Regions from separate parts of the Homo sapiens genome. Here region 2 is linked to region 1. Evidence: fine-mapped expression QTL. A gene starts in region 1. The other region holds a variant in brackets. All regions are shown on one strand. Distances are from middle to middle. Region 1 holds the start of TTC21B (tetratricopeptide repeat domain 21B). Region 2 overlaps LOC100506124 (a long non-coding RNA gene).

Region 1 (8,337 bases):
TGAAAATCAAGATTATGATATGAAAAACTGTTCTTAGTGCAAAGCAAGAATTTAAAACTGATGGAACATGTTTAATGATTAACACGTACCTTCCATTAATGTGCCATAGGCATGATAAAACCTGAAGACTGGATCACTTCCATACCTCTTAATTCCTTCACTGGCAACCAGTAATACATGATGGAAATATCTCTCTTGACAATAGTAATTAATCAAAGTCTAAATGGAAATAATGAAAAAATGTTATAAAGGAATTCTGGTGCTCTGAAATACTCTAAGAAGCAGATAATAATCTAACATCTAGAATAATGTAAAATTCAGGCAATGTGACTTTTTTCTTCCAAGTTTCTTAAAATACTATTAATGGCTAGAACTCAATGCTAAGGATTGCAGAACTGAATGATCATAAAATTACTGAAATAATTCAATGTTTTCTAATAATTTAAATTATTTTTCCTAAGTTTTTGTTAACAGCACCGAAATGAGGCTGCTTTCACCTTTTTTCCTTTGCCCACATTTTCTTGAACGTTTTAGAAAACAGAAAGGCAGACAATAAACAGGAACTAAAAAAAAAAAAAAAAAGACAAGAGGCTTCCATTGCCAGACCATAGGTTTCTTTAAAAAAAAAAATCTTCTTTTTAAAATATCCAGTATTTTATTACAGCATTACAAAGTAATGACAAATTTAATTCTTCAACATATCATCAAATGTTATCTTACTCGGCTTTGAGTTCTGCGACAAATAAATTGTCAGTTAAGAATAAATAAACTATTTTTCAATGAAAATCGTTGTCTTTAAGCTTTTTCCAAAGTTATATTATTTCCATATACAAGACAAAACTACTATCAGGACCTACTAACTTCTGAATAAAAATGGGCCTGTGCTGTCTACCATTTTTCCTACGATTATGTCTAAGGCTTGGTTGCTAACCTCATCAAAGACAGAAACCACACTTTCCCACCATCACTAGGATACACCTGATTCACCAGAAAGCAGTTTGGGCCACCCCATACCTACCTACCTGGACTCTACAGCTTGTTCAGTAGCAGTGAGAAATACAGGTGACTAAGTGACAGGATTGAAATCTAAGGGTATCTAGACAGCTCTGGTTTGTTTGTTTTGTTTTGTTTTGGAGATTCTGTCACTCAGGCTGGAGTGCAGTGGCGCAATCTCTGCTCACTGCAATCTCTGCCCCCTAGGTTTAAGCGATTCTCCTGCCTCAGCCTCCTGATCTGGGACTATAGGCACACCCCACCGCACCTGGCTAATTTTTGTATTTTTAAGTAGAGATGGGGCTCCCCATGTTGGCCAGGCTGGTCTTGAACTCTTGACTTCAAGTGATCCACCCGCCTGGGCCTCCCAAAGTGCTGAGATTACAGGCGTGAGCCACCACGCCCGTCCGACAGCTCTGTTTTATATAGTCTCTTGCTTCTGGAGGGCTATAGTCCATGTACTTCTCTAGATCAGTTAGGCGACTGTTCTCTGTAATTTTACTCTGCCTCCCTCCTTGTGATCACTGCTCCCTAACCTCCTTTTTAGCCATGTTTCTTAAAAGTGTGCTCCATACCCCATCTCCAGACCCCCACAACACATTTCAGTGAAACACAGTTTTCCTCCAATGCTCCATTCCCTAAAGTTGCAGAATGACTTCTTACTTTGCCACAACTAAGGACACGTTTAATACCTTACTTGACTTCTGCACACTATCACTAAGCATCTATAATCCTCCTGAAAGGCAGTGGCATAGCACCATAAAAAGGACGCGAATTTAAAGGCAAAAAGAATCTCTGGTCCTTCTTACAACGCCTCAGTCTGCTCATTTATAAAATGCTGTTAGTAATGCAAATGTACAGGTCACTGTGAGAATTAATTAAGATATCATAGTATAAGAGTTCTATTCTGAAAAAAATAAGTTCCTCTGCATCCCATATGTTAATGGAATAAAAAAAAAATGTGTCCTGCGCCAAGACCTCTTGTCTATGTTCCAGATTCATATTTCCATTTTCCACCTGCTACCCTGCTACTCATGAATCCTCCCTTCCTATTTGCCCAGTCTCTCTAAGTCTAACCACTTAGTAGGTTCTTCTATTTCTCCAGTCTACCTCCCACTAAACATACCTAATGCTACTGCCTTGGTTCAGGTTAGGTTATTCAATCCAAAACATTTACTGACTGCCTACTAGTACCCAGGCACTGGGCTAGCTACTATGAATAGAAAAATGAGTAAGACATGGTTCCTGTCCCCCCGGAAAACCTACATTTTTCAGATGAGACTGTAATCTGAAGACTAACTGAAATATAATGTAGTAAATGTAAGAAAAGAGCTTATAAACTCCTTTGGGAATGTGGGATAGCAACATTTTGACAGCATTGAAAACTGAATGTGGTGTGAGGGGAGGATGGATGACTAAAATCAAGGGAAAGATTATTGGGGAGGATTTCAGAGCTGACTCTTGAATTGCAAACCCCTCATTCTCCCTCCACACACGTACACGCTCTTCCTATTTCCTTTTCATGATTCTTGAGGAAGGTACAGGAGTTAGGAAGAGGAACTGCAACAACACAGATAACAAGTCATCAATGGTACATTGGGATGGCAGTGGTGATGAAGATGACTAAAAGCCACTCCATACTCTAGAGCAGGGTTTGGCAAACCACACTCTGTGGGCCATATCTGGCTGGCTGGCTGTACAGCCAGTGAACTAAGAATGGTTTTTATATTTTCCAGCTGTCAAGGAAAAAAAAGAAATATTTCATAACATGAAAATTACATGAAAGTCAAATTTCAGTGTTCATAAATAAAGTTTTATTGAAACACAGCCATGCTCATTTAAGTATTGTCTATGGCTGTTTTGAACAAGCCAATTAGATGTGATAGACCATACGGTCCATAAAGTCTAAAATGTGTACTATCTGGCCCTTTGTTGAGAAAGTTTGCTATTCTCTGCTCTGGAGGCTTAAGTGAGACAGAGAGTATTGGATGATGAGGTTGGAGACGAAGGTGGGGTGAAAAGCCTCATATTAAGTACTTGGACTTGAACCTCAAGTCTAAGTAATGAGGAGGCCCATTTTTACATTTTACATTAAAGTGTTTTTATTAAAATGTTCATTTGGGTGGCAGTGCAAATAATACATTTAAGGGAATAAAAAAATGTAAGGATATAGGGGGATAGCTAGAACAGAGGATAATGTAAAACTTCAGGCAGAAAAACAAGACATTTCAGCATTCCCTAACCTCCTACATCGCCAAATTGTCCTCCATCCACTTATCACCATCTCACAGGATACACATTTCATTTACCTACTTGTTGTCTGACTCCTCCTACTCAAATGTAAGCTCCAAGATTGGAAGAGTTTTTCTTGGTTTTATTATTTCAGTGCTTAGAACAGTGCTAGACACATAGGAGGCATTCAGTAAATATTTGTTGAGTCAACTGAATTAGGGTTTTTCCCCAGCATTAATTAGCCTGTAAAATCTGAGAAGGCAGAAACTGTTCAGTTTTGCTCACTGCTATCTCCAGCTTCTAATGGACATACAGTAACCCTTCATAAATATTTGCTGAACGAGTGATTCAGTGAACAAATGAATAGAGAAGACCAACATCCGAAAAGTTATTTTATTTTCAAGCCTCATGTCTTTAACTGTTTTATATCAGCCTTTCTTAAGTTGACCGTCATTAATATTTGCTGAATGAATGAGTCAGTGATAAACAGAGAAGACCATCACCCTAAAATAACGACCCCTCCACTTTTAAGTCTTACGTCTTTAATGGGTTTCATATAATCTTTCTGCGCTCTTTTTACTGTCCAGTGTGGGAGCTGACACTAGTTTGCCTTAAGTCCTTAAAAATCGCACCCGGAGGCGCAGTGTCATAGGTAACCCAAGCTTTCCTAGTAAACATGATACAAAAGTAAACACAACCAACAGCATGGGGACCAGCAATTCAGAAACACCGAGCGGGCGGGCTGCCCAGACCTGGGCTTCCCCAGCAGGGCCCGCGGAGACCGGCCGTGAGCAGAGGCTGCAGGCCCACCCCGCAACCCGAGCAGCCGGGGCACCGCAGGGAAACAGCGGCCTAGCGAAGCCACCCGAGCTCCCTCCGCGCCCCCGGGCCAAAAGGCCGCAAAGGAACTCCGCCCGCCCGCCCGCTCACCCGCTCACCCGCTCACCCGCTCACCTTCAATTCCTGCGAGTCCATGGCTGCCCCGAGGCCGGGCCGCGGGGCTCTGGGGATTGTCTCGCCGCAGCCTAAAGGAAGACGCAGAATTCAGCTCCCCTAGCCTCCCGGAGCGCTCTAGCGCCCCGGGCCCCAGCGGGAGGGGCGGGGTCGCGCCGCGATTGGCTGTCGGAGGGAGAGGCGGGCCTGTGTGGCGGGGATCGTGCTGTAATGGAGCAGGGGCGGCGGGGACCCGGAGGTGAGGGCTGCGAGGGCCGCCCGGGAGGGTCCGGGCTGGGAAAAGGGCCTCCGCCGGAGAGTGCAGCTGGAAAAGGAGGTCACACTGGGAAACGGCTGTCTGAGGACAGTGGGTGGGCGGGCCGAGGAAATGGAATTCAGGAATAAAGGAAACGGAGTATGAAGAAGGGGAAGTCTGTTTCCTGTCACTGGTTGTAAAGGAAGACACCATTTTCTGCACGTTTGTCTGGAGGCGGATTCCCGCAGTGCGGCTCTCAGCAAGGCTCTGCCGGCGCGGGAAAAAGCGGTCAACTTTCACGTGGGCAAGTTGTTTTACGGCCACAAGGTGGCGCAGAAAAAAAAAATCACACGTTCTTAACAGAAATACGGTGCGCTTGGGCCCGTCTTTGCAGGCGTTGCTGCAATCTTTGTTAGAATGTGTGTTCAATTAGCCCTTTTTTACCAGCCCCGATAATAAGAGGGACAAATAAATTAAACTTCCAGAAAATTAGTGTCTTGTTTTCAATGATACTACTGATTTTAAACTGAGAATAAAATGAATCCCAATGCAAATTTTTATGTTTGCACCCCATTAGGCAACTCAATCAGTCACACATAGATTTCTTAAGTCCAGGAAATTAAATGGAAATATAATAGACTAAGATTTTCTATTTCTGCTTAAATAAATATTTAAAATAGTGCATAAGGTCTGAGATTTAAGTGATCTTTGCAGAATCTTTCACGTGGATTCCAAATTTTGATCCTAGTGTTAATTATCTTACTTTAGTTGACATGATACGTAGTTGCCTTTTCCAGATTTTAAGTTTCTTAAGGAGTTTATAAACATTGACTTTTTCCCCATGCCAATAGGTTATGTAAGGACAGTCTTGAGAAAAACGGTAGCTACCATCCTAGGCTTTAAGGTGAAGCAATATTTCTCACCGGTTTCTCTTTAAAGGAATTCACCACGTATTTTCACGAGCAACTTTTTTTTCTTTCCAATATTTATAGTCCAGCTAAATGTCTGTGGTGATGAACAACTGGTGATATCTCTTTGATTTTCAAAGCTGCGGATTAATCCGCACTTGGTATACAGCAAAGAATACCACAGGACCAGGGTGCTCAATGAAGTGTATAATCTTGAACTGTAAACCTTTGGTTATAAGAGAAAAGTTCATCTGTAAGGAAATATCTCAGGATCATGGTTAACAGAACAGATGATCAACCTACCTTTTGGAGATCTTGAAAGTCATATTAATTTAGCCTCGTATTCTCTTCACTGAATTCTGTTCTAAGGTTGAATTATTTAGCACAAAACACCAAGCCTGATGTTTCATAAATGTTTGTTGGATTAAAAGTACTCTGAGATTTGCTTTGACACTCACGGTGACTTGGTGTGCCCTGTGCCCTTACTAGATCTCATGTAAGAAATTTATTTTGGATCTCAGGCCAGGAAAAACTCTTGTCTTTCCTGAAAAATCGATGTGTTCCTTAGCAGTAACATTTTTATCGGCTCACTTTTACTAGCTACAAACTTTTGAGTCTGATATCCATGACCCTTCACCTCATCGTCTTTTCAAGCCTTATCTTCTACCTCCCCTTCAAGGAGCCTTTATTCCGCTCAGTGGGACAAATATTCCTTCTTCTGGTAATGCTTTCCCCTACTTTGTTTTGAGCTCTTTCTTCACCTGAGAAAATCTCCTTCTTCTGAGTTCATTTCAAATTTCATGAAGTCTTTAAGGATCACCATAACTGGATGGGTATAAAAATATCACAGTGTAGTGGCAAGAATACCCTCTTCTGCATCTGAGGTGGAGCTCCTATTACGCTAGCTACTTTTGTGACTTGGGGAAGTAATTTCCCTAAGCCTCATTTTCCTTATTTACTAAAGAAACTAAATGCCTTACAGACATATTAAAACTTCCTGACACATAATAGGCATTGTATAACCAATAGTTTCCATTAAACACGTAGTGCTCTATAGCAGTGGTCCCCAATCATTTTGGCACCAGGGACCAGTTTGGTGGAAGACAATTCACAGAAGATAAATTTTCCATGGACAGGGGTAGGGGAGATGGTTTCGGGTTGAAACTATTCCATCTCAGATCATCAGATTCTTATCTAAGGAGCATACAGCCTAGATCCTTCACATGCACAGTTTATAATGGGGTTTGCATTCGTATGAGAATCTAATGCCTCGCTGATCTGACAAGGAGGTGGAGCTTGGGGTAACGCTCCCTTTCCTGCCCCGCAGCTCACCTCCTGCTGTGTACCCCGTCCTGCTGTATACCCCATCCTGCTGTGTAGCACTGATTTGCAGTCCTCAGATTGGGGACCCCTGCTCTATAAGACTTATTACACTTGCATAGTCCTTGTATTACTAGTTATAGTGCATTTTTGTTTAATGTTCTCTACCAGATGATGAGCACTATAAAGCTAGATAATATAATGTAGCAGTTAACATCTTCGTCTCCAGAAATACGTCATTTTCGTTCAGACCTTAATGTGTCCGGAATTGGTGGGTTCTTGGTCTTGCTGACTTCAAGAATAAAGCCGCGGACCCTCGCGGTGAGTGTTACAGTTCATAAACGCACGCAGACCCAAAGAGTGAGCAGCAACAAGATTTATTGCAAACAGCAAAAGAACAAACCTTCCACAGAGTGGAAGAGGACCCCAGTAGAGTGCCCCTGCTAGCTCAGGTGGCCTGCATTTATTCCCTTATCCGGCCCCACCCACATCCTACTGATTGGTCTGCTTTACAGAGAGCTAATTGGGCTGTTTTACAGAGAGCTGATTGGTCCGTTTTGACAGGATGCTGATTGGTGTGTTTACAAACCTTGAGCTAGACACAGAGTGCTGACTGGTAAATTTACAATCCTTTAGCTAGACACAAAAGTTCTTCAAGTCCCCACCAGATTAGCTAGACACAGAGCACTGATTGGTACCTTTACAAACCTTGAGCAAGACACAGGGTGCTGACTGGTGCGTTTACAAACCTTCAGCTAGACACAGAGTGCTGACTGGTGCATTTACAAACCTTTAGCTAGACATAAAAGTTCTCCAAGTCCCCACCTGACTCAGGAGCCCAGCTGGCTTCACCTAGCGGTTCCCGGCCCGCCGAGACTGCAGCGGAGCTGCCCACCAGTCCCGCGCCACGCGCCCGCACTCCTCAGCCTTTGGGCAGTGGATGGGACCGGGCGCCGTGGAGCAGGGGGCGGCGCCCTTCGAGGAGGCTCGGGCTGGGCACGAGTCCACCGGGAGAGGGGAGGGCTCGCGCATGGCATGACGGGCTGCAGGTCCCGAGCCCTGCCGCGCGGGAGGCGGCTGAGGCCCCGTGAGAATTCGAGCGCCGCAGGGGCAGGCTGGCAGTGCTGGGGGACCCGGTGCACTCTCCGCAGCTGCTGGCTCGGGTGCTAAGCCCCTCACTGCCTCGGGCCAGCGGTGCCGACCCGCCGCTCCAAGTGCGGGGCGGGCGGAGCCCGCGCCCACCTGGAACTCGCGCGGGCCCGCCAGCGCCAACCGCAGCCGCGGTTCCCGCCCGCGCCTCTCCCTCCACACCTCCCCGCAAGCAGAGGGAGCCGGCTCCGGCCTTGGCCAGCCCAGAGACAGGCTCCCACAGTGCAGCGGCGGGCTGAAGGGCTCCTCAAGCACTGCCAGAGTGGACACCGAGGCCGAGGAGACGCCAAGAGCGAGTGAGTGCTGCTAGCAGGTTGTCACCTCTCATTAATACTACTATTCACTGGCTATTCAGTTGGAAAAAGTTATTTAACTTCTCTGTATACTTCAGCTGTAATATCAGACTAACACCTCAGAAAATTGTTAAGAAGACTAAATAAGTTAATATTTAAAGTACAGAGCAGTATTAGGGGTATGGTAAGTACTGAATTACTGTTACCTATAATCACTTGTACTCCCAACTACTCCAGAGTACAGTATTGATCA
Region 2 (8,337 bases), 97 kb before region 1:
ATTCTTTTTTATTCTCTTTTCTTCTTTTCAAAAAATCTGACTGGGCAATTTCAAAAGACTTGTCTTCAGGTTCTGAGATTTTTGCTTTTGTTTGATCTATTGTTGAAGCTCTTGTATGAATTTTTAAAATTTCATTCATTGAATTCTTTCTTTCCAGGACTTCTGGTTTGTTCTTTTTTATTATATCTATCTCTGGTGAATTTCTCACTCACATCCTGAATTGTTTTTCTGATTTCTTTCAATTATTTTCAGTGTTATCAATCATAGCTCACTATGAACTCAAGTTCCTACTCTCAAGCCTGCCTCAACCTGCTAAGTATTTAGGACTATAGCCTGCAGTGTGCTGCCATTCCTGGCTAACATTTTATTTTTATTTTTAGCACAGACAAGGTTTGCTATGTTGCCTGGATTGGTTTCTTGTGTTTTTACGTTGATAACTGTACCTCCGGTGTAACAGTCACTTCTTCCAATTTTTTTTTGAATTGACTTTTACAAGGGAAGGGATTTTTCCTGAAGATACATCTATGCTGTTGGTTGGGTAGGACACTAGCTTTGATTCTGGGTGCATGCAGTAGTGTAGTCTCCATATGATTTATTCAGCTGTAAACAGCATCAGCTGTGTCTGTGATTTCCTAAGTGGCTTAGGTTGTTGTTGTTAGTGGAGGCTATGGTGAGGTTTTGTTGAGGATGAGGATTACAGGTAGGCCAGTCATCAGATTCCAGTCGCGGCAGCAGTAGACCAAGCATGCCTGGCCTCGGGTTCCCAGTTGGCGTATGAAGTCACCAGTGTTAGTGGGTTGAAACAGGCCAATACTTAGGTCTACAGATGGCTGAAGTGCTGCAGTGGTAGTGGTGGGTCAGTCAGTCGAGTGGGTCCTTGGTCCCTGGATAGCATGTGTGATGTGGGTGATGGCAGTAGTAATGGCAAGACAATCCTTGGGCTCTGAAGTGACACACATTGGTGTTAGTGATATCTACAAGGAGCTGGGTATGTCAGTCCCTCATTCCCTAGGCAGTATGTGCAGTGGGTGCTGCTGTGGTGGTAGCAGCCCTAGGAGGACTGCACAGATGCCAGTGGTGGTGGACAGGGTGAGACAAGCCCTTAGACAGTGTTCTAGGGCACTGGAGTGGGGGGAGTGCCAGGCCAGGTAGGCCTGTTTCCAGGGACCCCAGGAATGTAATCAGGCCCTGGCTATGGTGGGCAGAGAGGAGTGACACTCAGGCTCCCAGTAGAGAGCTTGGGAGTCTGCTACAACAGGGGTGGTAGGCAGGGAAAGCCTGCCATTAGGGTATGTCCAAGTATGCTGCAGTCCTGCTGTTGGAGTAGAGGCAGAGTTTCTGACAGTAACTATAGCCACAGGCAGGCAGTTCTTAGGCTGTGTGGGAGGAGGGATGCTTTAATCCCCAGTGGCAGTGGCAGTGGTATATCAGCTGTAGTAGCAGCAGGGAAAACTAGTTCTCAGGAAATGTGCAAATGCGTGATGGGAGCCCTGCTGCTTGGTAGATGGAGTCGTGACCAGCTACATGTGTTTTGGCTTCTGGTGGCAGCAATAGTGGCTGTGGCTGGTGATGAGAGGGTCTGTCCTCAGAGTGTGATTGCAGTAGCCCTGCTGCTGGGGGCAGGGTCATTATATGTGGTAGCTGTCCCAGGTAGGTGGTTCTCTGGCCATAGAGAGTATGTGCTTTGGCTTTCTTTGTCCTGGGAGAGCCTCCCTAGGGTGCTGCACCACCGTTTACCTGGCATACAGGGCACTGTGTGTGCTGGAGTGCTGGGGACCCTGCCATTCTGCTGAGTCTGACTGGTGTTATTGCTGCTACGGCTCTCTGGGTGGACACAGAATGGTGTCAGTGGGGCTCCAGGGACGTGAAGGTGCAGGGGCTCTTGGGCCCCAAGGCGGGATGCAACCTCCAGTGGGTCCTAAGCTCTCAAAATGGCCCTATGGTGAATCTGCTTAGGACTTGGTGGGTGCGTTGGACCATTATGAACTCCCACTCTAGAGCAATGCCTTTGTGTCATCTCCAGGCAGGTCCCTATGCTATTCTGAGAGCCTGTGATGGGGTCTCCCATGGCTAGGGTATCAGGAGTCCATGGTGGGAATATGGAAAGGTGGGTATCTACTGCTTACCCTTTTCCTGAACTAGGGAGTCTTTATGAGCTCCCAGCTGATCCCAGCTGAGCTGACTGCCTCCCTTCCTGCTCCTTCCATGCCTCAGGTGCTTCCTGTTCCTTCTCTGTTGAATTCCAATATTCTCTCTTAGATGCTCTATTCGAAGTTTGATTATGCACTTGCTATTTTGGTTCTTGTCTGTGGAGGAGGTAAGTGTCAGATGCCTCCAGTCAGGCTTCTTGAAGTTCCTCTCACATAAGTCTTTATGTCCTTCATGACAATCTTACTATCCCAATGAGTGAATGACTATATGACAAAACAATCTTATTATATGTCGACATCACAGTATCACAGTGGATACTATGGTAGGCACCATGCCCCTATTCAAAATCAAGGCACTCATTTCCCCAGATGCCAGGAGTATTGGCTGCTAATGGCTCATAGCTAAACCCCTCTCCAAGCACTGGCCTTGGATTAAGACTATATTTCCTCCTGAAGAGAGAGTGGGGCAGCCTGTGTACAATGCAGGACCAGGACTAGGGTGAAAAACTGGCCTTGAGTGCTAAATTTAAGCAGGAGCCAAAAACTCAGTAATCAAACAATATTTTAATGTAATATTTTAAAAATAAAAAATGCAAAGGTTCTGTAATTATCAAAATATCACAATTTTAAATAAAGATATAATCAATATGACTGATTTTTCTCTTTGCTTGAGGCTCCAATATGGCTCCCCAAAACACTCTCTATTTTAAAGCATTATTTAAAAAATACTAACCAATGCAAAAGTTCACCCTGAACAAAATACTGAAATTTTTAAATAAAGGCTGACTTTTGCATTAATTTAGGTTTAAAAAATAATAATACATTAAAATATTATTTATCTTGGCTACTGAGCTTTTTGACGCCCTCTAAATTTTGTCCTCAAGGCAAGCATCTCACTCTTCTTATGTAGTCCCAATCCTGGCAGATTGACTCAGGGGAAACCAATGTCTGTCTCCTTTGCCTTAAAGGGAGGCCATGGGAGGCCATCCCATCAACACAGTCCCTTGGGGATCAGCTGAAGCCTTCCTTGTGACTTCATTGCAGTCCAATCCTGCTTTTCTCCCTCCCTTACCAGCATTATTCCTAAGAGTATCCTGCAGGTGAGTCTCTGAGTCTCTTTCCTCTAAGACCTCCCCAGAGAAGAGAGGTGAAAACTGAAGTTCACAGAAGGTGAGGAACTTGCCCAAGCTCTCAGAGCTCCTATGAGATGAAAACCCAGGTGAGACCAGGCACAGTGGCTCATGAGGGTAATCCGAGAACTGGGAGGCTGAGATGGGAGGACTGTTGGAGCCCAGGAGTTCAAGATCAGCCTGGGCAACATAGTGAGACTCTATCTCTTCAAGCAATAAAAAAATTAGCTGGGTGTGGTGGGTGCACGCCTGTAGTCCCAGCTACTTGTGGGGCTGAGGTATGGGGATCACTTGAGCCTGGGAGGTCGAGGCTGCAGTGAGCCATGATCACGCCACTGCACCCCACCCTGGGTGACAGAGCAAGACCCTGTCTAAAACAAACAAACAAACAAACAAAAAACAAATCCCAGTCAAGTTAGTATGACTTTAAAGCCAGTGCTTCTCATTATAACATTCTATAGGCTGGGGCCAGAATTTGTGGCTACAGTCTAATAAGTCAAAGGTAAAACAGAGATACCAGCAATCCCTATGCACTCTCCTAATTGAATTTCCTAATTGCAGACTAGAAATCAGGTTCTCTGATTTCTAGGAAGTGGGCCTCCGATTATATCAGACCCTGTAGTCAGCAGAATAATGCCCGCATCCCCACTGAAGATGTCCACATCCTAATCCCTAAAACCTGTGAATGTGTTAACTTACATGGCAAAAGGAACTTTGCAGATGTGATTAAGTTAGGGATCTTGAGCATATGCTGCATTATCCATGTAGGCCCAAATATAATCACAAGGGTCCTTATTAGGGAGAGAGGGAGGCAGGAAAGTTAGAGAAGGAAACATGATGACAGAAGTAGAGGTCACAGTGATGTGATCATGAGACAAAGAATGCAGGCAGGCCTTAGAAGCCAGAAAAGTCAAGGAACAGAGCCTTCCCTACAGCTTGCAGAAGGAAGGGAGCTCTGTTGCCCCTTGGTCTTAGCTCTAAGACCCATTTTGAACATCTGACCTCCAGAAGTGTAAGAAAATAAATTTGTGATGTTTGAAGCCTCAAGGTTTGTGGTAATTTTTTATAGCAGCAATAGGAAAGTAAAAGACCCCTAAAGCAGTGTTTCAGCCCTGGCATTATGGCATCACCCATGTGGCTCTGAGATGTATTGGATCCCTAACAGAAAACAGGTAGGACCACCAGAACAATTTAATGAAGACTTCTCAGTTGTATTATATTTTTAAAAATTTAAAATGAACTTGTATATGTGGAAGGATTGATGATCTGTACTGACTCCAGATGGTTATGTTCTCCTGAT[G/A]ACAGATGGAAGTCCAGGAGGCGGGGCCATCTACAGGAAAGCAGGAGAGAAATGATTGATATAGGAAGCCAGTACAATCCAGGAACTCTTTATACAAGCACAATTTTTACTTTTCTGATTCTCCGGTAGTATTTTTTGAATTATGGAAGGAGATGAACATTCCTATTTTTTTAATATGGAACTAGCTGTACTGTTGTTTCTCTTTCCTTGCTGTGCTAGAAGAGTCTGGAGTTTAAGCTCTTCTTGTATTTGAGCAAAAGTTAATGTTTTTAAATTCTTTTTGTTGATTAGACATTTGGGTCTGATGGATCACTAAGGTTTATTATAAAAAAGTTTGAAGTTCAAGGATATTTCTTCTTTTTTACATTAGTTGTAAGGAAAAGGACAAAATGCCTTGGAGAGAAGCCAGAACAAGAGAATTTGGAGCATCAACAAAATATGTTGAACATAAACAAGAGAGTAGAGTTTCACTCTAGGCAAGAAAGTGGTTCTCCCAGGGGGATGAACTAGAAAAAGGGAGAGGAAAGTATCATGTGTATATGAGTAGGAAGATGAAGGAAACAGGGAAGGGGGAGGTAGTTATAGTTAAGCAGATCGGATCTTAAGCAACTTTGCCAATGATATTCTTACCCCAAGTGTATGCCAGCAAGATATGGTTCTACTGCTGGTGACCTCATAGAAGCAGAGTCATCACTGGAGAAAGACATAGCTCTCATCCTGATGGGCATCTCCTGCCCCTGAGGCCTCAGTTAGCTGCACTTGCCTTCTGCATCTCCTGGGGATTTCACTCCATCAGTTAGCATCTTGTTTACTGCCTTCCCTAAAGAAGTGATATGTATTAATATTAGTCTGTTATAACATCGCTATAAAGATACCAAAGACTGGGTAATTTATAGTGAAAAGAGGTTTAATTCACTGAAAGTTCTACATGGCCAGGGGGCCTTCAAAATTTACAATAATGGTGGAAGGCAAAGGGTAAGCAAGCTACCTCCTTCACAAGGCAGCAGGAGAGACAGCAAGAAAGCAGGGGAAATGCCAGACACTTATCAAACAACCAGATATTGTGAGAACTCCCTCACTATCACAAGAACAGCCTGGGAGAAACCACCCCATGATTCAATCACCTCCCAACAGGTCCCTCCCTTGATATGTGGGGATTATAATTTGAGATGAGATTTGGGTGGGGACACAGAGCCAAACCATATCATGATGCCTATCCATTTCTTTGAATTTTGTTTGATTCCTGACTGACTTATTCTTACCTCACAATGCCCCAGGATATATGTGAGCCCAAGAAAATGGGATTAAAGTCAGAGAGACTTAGTAGCGTGGCCTAATGAAAAATCCTTGGGGCTAACTGGAGCCAAACTGATTTGATACCTTCCCAGCATCTCTCCATCTTTTACATGAGCTGGGACCATGGTTAATGGCTCTTTTTATATAATAATTTAAAAATGTGTAAATATAAGGGCCACCTAGCACATAAAGAAGGAATATAAAGGTCAAGGGTCTTGTTGTTTATCAACATGGTCTTTGAGAATTGCTTATACTCAATTTTGATGAGCCTGGCTCTTTATGGCTCCTTCTTCCGTGATTTGGAAAAGTGCAAGCCTGGGCAGCTGTCAACTCATTGATACTCTCAGCAGCACAGTTCCGACTGAACTCTTAGTTTAGTCATGGTGATATCTAGTGGTTGTACCACTAGGGTGGTACAGCCCTTGGTACTGTCCTGGTTTGGGTTGCTTGGACATTTGGAGAAATAAAACAGATGGGAGAATTATGATTTTGAACAAATAATTTACCATGTTGCAAATTTCTTTATCAGTGAAAGTCCAGTAATTTTCTACATTGTTTAACTAAAAGTTGTGGGTTTTTAAATGTAGGTGTTCAACTAAGCTAGCACTTGAGTGAATTAAAAAAAAAATTGGACTAAATACTGTGGAGGGAGAAGTGCAAAAGGATCAGATAACATGTTGTAGTGGAGCCTTCAGGCTGTCTGCCCAGCAACCTTTTTATCCATAGATGTGGGCCTGGGTAACCTGTGTCACCTGGTGGCCTCCTTCCTGGCCATATTGGTGGTGGGAGTTGGGGACTAAGAAACTACACATCATTCTCTGCATGTGGCCAAACTTACAACATGGGAGTAGTGAAACGTCTGTGAGAAGTGAGAACTAGTGTATTAGCCCATTTTCATGCTGCTAATAAAGATACCCAAGATTGGATAATTTATAAAGAAAAAGAGGTTTCATGGACTCACAGTTCCACATGGCTGGGGAGGCCTCAAAATCATGGTGGAAGCTAAGGAGGAGCAAGTCATGTCTTACATGGATGGCAGCAGGCAAACAGAGCTTGCACAGGGAAACTCCCCCTTATAAAACCATCAGATCTTGTAAGAGGTATTCACTATCATGAGAACAGCATGGAAAACACCTGCCCCCATGATTCAATTACCTCCCATGGGGTCCCTCCCACAACACGTGGGAATTCAAGATGATATTTGGGTGGGGACACAGCCAAACCATATCACTCTGCCCCTTGCCCCTCCTAAATCTCATGTCCTTACATGTCAAAACCAATCATGCCTTCCCAACAGTCCCCCAAAGTCTTAACTCATTTCAGCACTAACTCTTTTAAAAGTCTACAGTCCAAAGTCTCACCTGAGACAAGGCAAGTCCCTTCTGCCTATGAGCCTGTAAAATTGAGAGCAAGTTACTTGCTTGCTAGATACAATGGAGATACAGGCATTGGGTAAATACAGCCATTCCAAATGGGAGAAATTGGGTAAAACGAAGGAGCTACAGGCCCCATGCAAGTCCAAAATCCAGCAGGGCAGTTAAATCTTAAAGCTCCAAAATAATCTGCTTTGACTCCTTATCTCACATCCAGGTTATGCTGATGCAAGAAATGGGTTCCCATGGTCTTGGGCAGCTCTGCCAGTGTGGCTTTGCAGGGTACAGCCTCCTTTCTGGCTGCTTTCATGGGCTGGCAACGAGTGCCTGTGACTTTTTCAGGTGCACAGTGCAAGCTGTCAGTGGATCTTCCATTCTGGGGTCTGGAAGATAGAGACCCTTTTCTCACAGCTCCACTAGGCAGCACCCTAGTGGGGACTCTGTGTGGGGGCTTCTACCTCACATTTGCCTTCCACACTACCCTAGCAGAGGTTCTCCGTGAGGTTTGTCCCTGAAGCAAAACTTCTTCCTGGACATCCAGGCATTTCCATACATCCTCTGAAATCTAGGTGGAGGTTCCCAAATCCCAATTCTTGACTTCTGTGCCCTCACAGGCTCAACACCACGTGAAAGCTGCCAAGGCTTGGAGCTTGCACCCTCTGAAGCCACAACCTGAGCTCTAGCTTGGCCCCTTGTAGTCATGGCTGGAGTGGCTGGGACACAGGGCGCTAAGTCCTTAGACTGCACACAGCAGAGGGACACTGGGCCCAGCCAATGAAACCATTTTTCCCTCCTAGGCTTCCAGGCCTGTGATGGGAGGGGCTACCTTGAAGACTACTGACATTCGCTGGAGACATTTTCCCCATTGTCTTGGCAATGATTCACATTCAGCTCCTCGTTACTTATGCAAACTTCTGCAGCCAGCTTAAATTTCTCCTCAGAAAATGGAATTTTCTTCCCTATCACCTTGTCAGGCTGCAAATTTCTGAACTTTTATGCTCTGATTTCTTTATAAAACTGAATGCCTTTAACAGCACCCAAGTCACCTCTTGAATGCTTTGCTGCTTAGAAATTTCTTCCACCAGATT

Evidence for each region.
Region 2: its variant is fine-mapped to the expression of TTC21B in whole blood (TOPMed, PIP 0.96).

What each region holds. Positions count from the first base shown.
Region 1 is chr2:165,949,506-165,957,842 of GRCh38, forward strand. It overlaps TTC21B (tetratricopeptide repeat domain 21B), which reads right to left and starts at 4,271. Exons shown (of 29, transcript NM_024753.5): 1 at 4,180-4,271; 2 at 90-219. The coding sequence starts at 4,200. LOC102724058 (a long non-coding RNA gene) reads left to right here and starts at 7,913. Exons shown (of 4, transcript NR_110598.1): 1 at 7,913-8,087. RefSeq lists a silencer at 4,122-4,521 and an enhancer at 4,286-5,035.
Region 2 is chr2:165,853,005-165,861,341 of GRCh38, forward strand. LOC100506124 (a long non-coding RNA gene) reads right to left here. Exons shown (of 4, transcript NR_045375.2): 3 at 5,211-5,400; 4 at 4,471-4,610. Among named protein-coding and RNA genes, the nearest start is that of GALNT3, 63 kb to the left of the region's middle. RefSeq lists an enhancer at 891-1,392. The variant G/A (reference allele first, on the strand shown) is at 4,581.